Linked DNA regions of Homo sapiens: region 2 is linked to region 1. Evidence: fine-mapped expression QTL. A gene starts in region 1. The other region holds a variant in brackets. All regions are shown on one strand. Distances are between the middles of the regions.

Region 1 (2,898 bases):
GTTGCTCCAGAAAGCGCGAGGGATGCGATATAGGAAATTCGGGCGTCAGTTAGAGCCCGAGAGGGGTTCAGGGAGTCACTGACTTAGGCAGAGAGGAGCCCAGACGGGGTTCGAAGACCCTGGGGACGGACGCCCACCTGTCAGTCCTGGACTGTGGGGCACCCGTAGGCCGAGGGGCAGGAGGCTATGGCCCTGTCTCCTGGCTTGGGTCTAAACATCCCAAGGAGGTCAGACCGTAGAGTGGGGGCTGTGTGATCTTTCAAATGAGGGACGCCGCGTGTTACCAAAGGCCAGTGCTGAGGAGCTGGGCTGAAAGCTTGGGGAGTTCCCAGAACCAGCAGACTAGGAACGGGAGGAACCGTGTCGGGGGCTCTGCTCCGCTGGGCACTGACCCCCACCCCGCCCCCCGGTCTTGCAAGGGCTGGAGAAGGGTGAAAGGCAGAGGCGGGAGTCCGCACTTAGGGACCGGTCCGTTCCACACGCTGCTGACCAGGCTCCTGGGTGGCGCTCGCATGGAACATTCCGGAAACACCCATGGGAAGGTCCCAAGTTGGTTCCGAAAGGCCCTGACGGACGCGCAGGGGACGCTGAGCCTGTGATCCTCGCCTCACCCAGACGAGGCCGGGCTGCTTCTCACAGGAAAGTGCGTCTGGAGTCCGGGGACGGCCTCCTCCTGGGGCCTGTCCAGGTCGCCCTGGGCCTAAATTACAGGCGGGGAGAGGCCTGTCGGAGGAGCCCCCGCTCCAGACCCCTGGGGGACCCAGGGCGAGGTCGCCCCAGCGCCTCACGTCTGGGGGCTCCCCTTTGCCACGTCGCCAGAGCAAAATTCAAAATCTGCAGTTCTGGCAAATTTCCGGGGCCTCCCGGACACGAAAAGCAGCTGAAATCTCAGGACAATGTCATTGGATGCGGACCGAGAAGAAGCCGTTCGGAACCAGAGCTGCCCCGGATTCTCCCAGGCCTGGCTCGCCGGTGGGGGGACCCCGGTCCCTGGTTTGGGGGGGCAGGAACGGGCGGGCGCCCCTGGGGGCTTCTCATTTGTGTGTTGGTCTCGGCCTTGAAATGCAGCGGAGAAAATAAAAAATAAAATAAAAATAGGAGTCAGGTGTCAGAGTCGGGTCGGCCAGGCACTGAGGTTTGAAGGAATCGCAGAAGAAGCTCCTCTCACCCGGGTCCAGGCCGCGGGGGTTCTGCGGGAGGCGCCCCCGATTCTGCCCGCGGGACGCCGCGGCCTCGGAAGCCCCGGGAGCAGGCCCCGCCCCGCCCCCACCCTCCTCTCTCCCCAAGTCCTCCCGCCCCCCCAGCCCCGCCCCTCCCCCGCCCTGGGTGCTCCCCTGCCCCTCCCCCGGCCCTCCCCCGCCCCTCACCCGCTCCTGCCCCTCCTCTCTCCCCAGGTCCTCCCGCCCCCAGCCCCGCCCCTCCCCCGCCCTGGGTGCTCCCCTGCCCCTCCCCCGCTCCTGCCCCTCCTCTCTCCCCAAGTCCTCCCCGCCCCCAGCCGCCCCTCCCCCCGCCCTGCCCCCCCCCGCCCCCGCCTCCAGCCCCGCCCCTCTCCGCTCCCCGCCCCGCCCCCACGCGCCCGCGGTCCCGCCGGAAGGACTTAAGCGCCCCGGAGCCGGGAGGCGAACTTGGGACCCGCTGGCCTCGCTCGGTGCGCGCCTCCCTCCCCGCATGCAGCCCGCCGAGCGCTCGCGGGTCCCCAGGTGTGTGGCGCGGGGTGCGGGCGTCCCCGGCGGCTGCGGTCCCCGCGCGGGCCCGCGACCCCCCAGAGGAAACTTCGGGGACGCCGGCCTCCTTCTCTCGGTTTTGCAGGATCGACCCGTACGGATTCGAGCGGCCTGAGGACTTCGACGACGCCGCCTACGAGAAGTTTTTCTCCAGCTACCTGGTCACGCTCACCCGCAGGGCGATCAAATGGTCCCGGCTGCTGCAGGGCGGGGGCGTCCCCAGGAGCCGGACAGGTGGGTCCCGGGGGCGCAGGTGGGTCCCGAGGGCGCAGGTGGGTTGGGCTGGGACGGGCCGGGCAAAGTCCGGGCTCCCGGAGCGGAGGGAGGGGGAGGAACCTTTCCGGGCAGGTCGGGACGAAGCTGCGGGCTCCGAGCTAGGGCAGCCGCAGGGACCGGTTTTCCCGCTTTGAGATGGGCCGGCGGGTCGGACGCGAAGGAGACCCGTCCCTCCCAGCAGGGAGCCATATCGGGATGGATCAAAACTCGATCCATGCCGGGCGCGGTGGCTCACGCCTGTAATCCCAGCGCTTTGGGAGGCCGAGGCGGGCGGATCACGAGGTCAGGAGTTTGAGACCAGCCTGACCAACATGGTGAAACCCCGTCTCTACTAAAAATACAAAATTAGCCGGGCGTGGTGGCTCCTGCCTGTAGTCCCAGCTACTCTGGAGGCTGAGGCAGGAGAATCGCTTGAACCCAGTAGGCGGAGGTTGCAGTGAGCCGAGATTGCGCCATTGCACTCCAGCCTGGGCGACAGAGCGAGACTCCGTCCTTGTGACGGGACCCACAGGGCCCTGCTCGACCTGCCGCTCCTCCGCGACCCCAGGCCTCCTACTGCTGCGGTGAGCACCGGCCTGACCGCCCGCCCGCCTCGGGGTTAGCTGCAGGGCCCCCTCCTCCGGGGCGCCCCAGGCTTCCCTGTGCGGAGGGCACCTCCTCATTTCTGCCTTTCCCAGCACAGCCCCTGCTGGAGTCAAAAACCCTTCCTCCCTGCAACGGATTTTTCATTCACTGCTCAGTCCTCAGAACCTGGGGCAGTGCCAGGCGACTTCCCTGTGTGTTCAGTGAATGAATGAAGTGTCTGCCTGGGGTGAGGGCTTGGTGGGAGTGTGCCCTGGAGCTAGGAACTCAGAGAAGTGGGGTCAAAGGGGAGTCCTGGGGGCTTCCTGAGAAGGGG
Region 2 (2,898 bases), 29 kb before region 1:
GGCCAACATGGGGAAACCCCATCTCTACTAAAAATACAGAAATTAGCTGGACATGGTGGCGGCGGACGCCTGTAATCCCAGCTACTCAGGAGGCTGAGGCAGGAGAATCGCTTGAACCCAGGAGGCAGAGGTTACAGTGAGCCGAGATGGCGCCATTGCACTCCAGCCTGGGCAACAAGAGTGAAGCTACACCTCAAAAAGAAAAAAAAAATCCAGTATAAAATAGTAGATTCAAATATGTAAATACGTGTGAAGGGGGCAAAGAAAGAGAAACGCGAAAAAAGGTGAGCAGTGGTTATCCACGAACACCCGATGTGTAGGTGTGTTTTCCCGTCGTTATCTGTCACTGCTTTCTGCGTTAATTTAAATGCACTTGCATCACTTTCAGGATCAGAAAATAAAGGCCTATGTGTGACCCTGGGGCGCTGGCGGGGGCTGGACGGAGGCCCAATGCCCCTGTTGCCCATTGTCTCCAGGCTTCTCCAGGACTCGGCTTCCCGCCTCTCCTTTGGGGACCGCACGAGTCACTGGGGGAGGCTCCGCGGGCAGCAGGTCTCTGGGAGGGGTTGTCGCCCCCTCGGTGCGCAGGGGAGCGACGGGTCCCTCCTGCACCTGCAGGGACAGGCCTCGGGCTGCACCGTCCCGCGCCCGCCTACCCCGCGCCCGCCTCGCCGGACGCCTCCTGCCTGAGTCCGCCAGGGGGCGCTGCCGGCCTCCCGGGCGGCGGCTGCTGCAAGAGGAAGCCCCGGCCCGCGAGCTGCTGCCACATCCGGACGCCGCCGGGAGCCGCCGGGAGCCGCCGGGGTGGGCGGGAGTCGGGGCGGCGCGCAGGTTCCCGGCCCCCTAAGGGACGGTTGCCTTCCCCAGAGCCGGGGACACAGGCGTACGTGCGGGGACCTCGGCGCTGGCCTCCGGGCTTCTGGAGCCCCTCCCTGGTGCGGAGCGGGGACGGTGACCTCCTCGTGGATTCTGGGAGGGGCAGCCTTGGCATCAGGACCTGGAAGCCGGAGAGGCTGCAGGGCTTCCAGCCATGGCCTTGCCACCGGAGGTCACGTAGTGTTTCCACATTTCCTTAGTGTGTACATGTGTGGGTCCCTGTGTTGTGGAGGGCTGTGTCTGCTTGGTGTGTGTGCACACGCGTGTGTGCATGGGTGGGTCCCTGTGTTGTGTAGGGGCCGTGTCTGCTTGGTGTGTGTGCACACGCGTGTGTGCATGGGTGGGTCCCTGTGTTGTGGAGGGCTGTGTCTGGGCAGGCTGTGTACACACCCATGTGCATGTGTGATGCGCACTGGGGCACTTGTCTGGGTAGTAGAGGTGGAGGCCTGTGTGGCCATATGTGCAACTGTGTGTCCGGGTGCGTGTACCACAGTCTTCCCTAAAATAGTAATACTGGGACCTACGTCATGGGGCTGTTGTGAC[C/T]GCGTGTGGCACTCCATGTGGGGTGGCACAGCCAGGCGCTGATCCGGCCACTTTGCCAGTCGGACTGACTGCGTGTCCTCTCCTTAGGGGTGAGAAGCTTCCTGGCATCGGGCCTGGGCTCCTGAGCCCCTGAGCCAACCGACTGATGGTCCCTGGGAGACAGCCCCCGCCCTGCTCCTGCCCCCCACACCTGAAAGGCTCATTGTGTGGGTTTGCTGTGCTCCACAGGGATGTAAACCGCCCCTCCTTTTCCCTGTTCTGTCTGTGAGAAGGTGCCAGGGATACTTTTTTTTTTTTTTGAGACCAAGCTTCACTCTTATTGCCCAGGCTGGAGCGCAATGGCGCGATCTCGGCTCACTGCAACCTCCACCTCCCAGGTTCAAGCGATTCTCCTGCCTCAGCCTCCCGAGTAGCTGGGATTATAGGCATGTGCCACCACACCTGGCTAATTTTTTTTTTTCAGCAGAGATGGAGTTTTCTCCATGTTGGTCAGGCTGGTCTCGAACTCCTGACCTCAGGTGATCCGCCGGCCTCAGCGTCCCAAAGTTCTGGGATTGCAGGCGTGAGCCACCGTGCCCAGCCCGTTTTTTTTAAGAGTCGGGGTTTCACTTTATCGCCCAGACTGGAGTGCAGTGGTGCAATCATGGCTCACTGCAGCCTCAACCTCCTGGGCTCAAGCAATTCTCCCGCCTCAGCCTCCTGAGTAGCTGGGATCACAGGTATGCACTAATTTTTGTATTTTTTTGTAGAGACAGGGTCTTGCTATGTTGTCCAGGCTGGTCTTGAACTCCTGGGCTCAAGCAATCCTCCTACCTTAGCCTCCCAAAGTGCTGAGATTACAGGCGTGACCCACGGCCCCCAGCCAGGGATACTTATGGAGGTCCCTGGGCAGTTCAGGTAAAGAGGATCCCACTGCCAGGCACGGAGGCTCATGCCTGTAATCCCAGCATTTTGGGAGGCTAAGGCAGGAGGATGAGTTGCGCCCAGGAGGTTGAGGCTGCAGTGAGCCAAGATTGTACCACTGCACTCCAGTCTGGGCAACAGAGCAAGACCCTGTCTTAATAAAAGAAAAAAGAAAGAAAAAAAAAGGCCGGGCGCGGTAGCTCACACCTGTAATCCCAGCACTTTGGGAGGCTGAGGCGAGTGGATCGCTTGAGCTCAAAAGTTCAAAACCAGCCTGGCCAACATGGCAAAACCCCATCTCTACAAAAAGTTAGCTGGGCATGGTGGCAGGCACTTGTGGTCCCAGCTACTTGGGAGGCTGAGACAGGAGAATTGCTTGAACCCAGAAGGCAAAGCTGGCAGTGAGCTGAGATGGTGCCACTGCACACCGGCCTAGGCAACAGAGTGAGTGAGACTTCAACAGGATTCATGAGAAGAGTCTGTTTTTAAAGCACACCTTCCTCTTCTAGGACTTTGATAGAAGGAGGTTAAAGTGCTCTGTTTCTGTGTCTTCTGAGAGGGTGGCCGCTCCCAGGG

What was found.
Region 2: its variant is fine-mapped to the expression of GRTP1 in whole blood (TOPMed, PIP above 0.99).

What each region holds. Positions count from the first base shown.
Region 1 is chr13:113,362,822-113,365,719 of GRCh38, reverse strand. It overlaps GRTP1 (growth hormone regulated TBC protein 1), which reads left to right and starts at 1,590. Exons shown (of 8, transcript NM_024719.4): 1 at 1,590-1,700; 2 at 1,810-1,958. The coding sequence starts at 1,669. RefSeq lists enhancers at 1-30, 31-724 and a silencer at 1,712-2,006.
Region 2 is chr13:113,391,949-113,394,846 of GRCh38, reverse strand. No RefSeq gene overlaps it. Among named protein-coding and RNA genes, the nearest start is that of GRTP1, 29 kb to the right of the region's middle. RefSeq lists silencers at 456-565, 576-925 and an enhancer at 843-1,384. The variant C/T (reference allele first, on the strand shown) is at 1,420.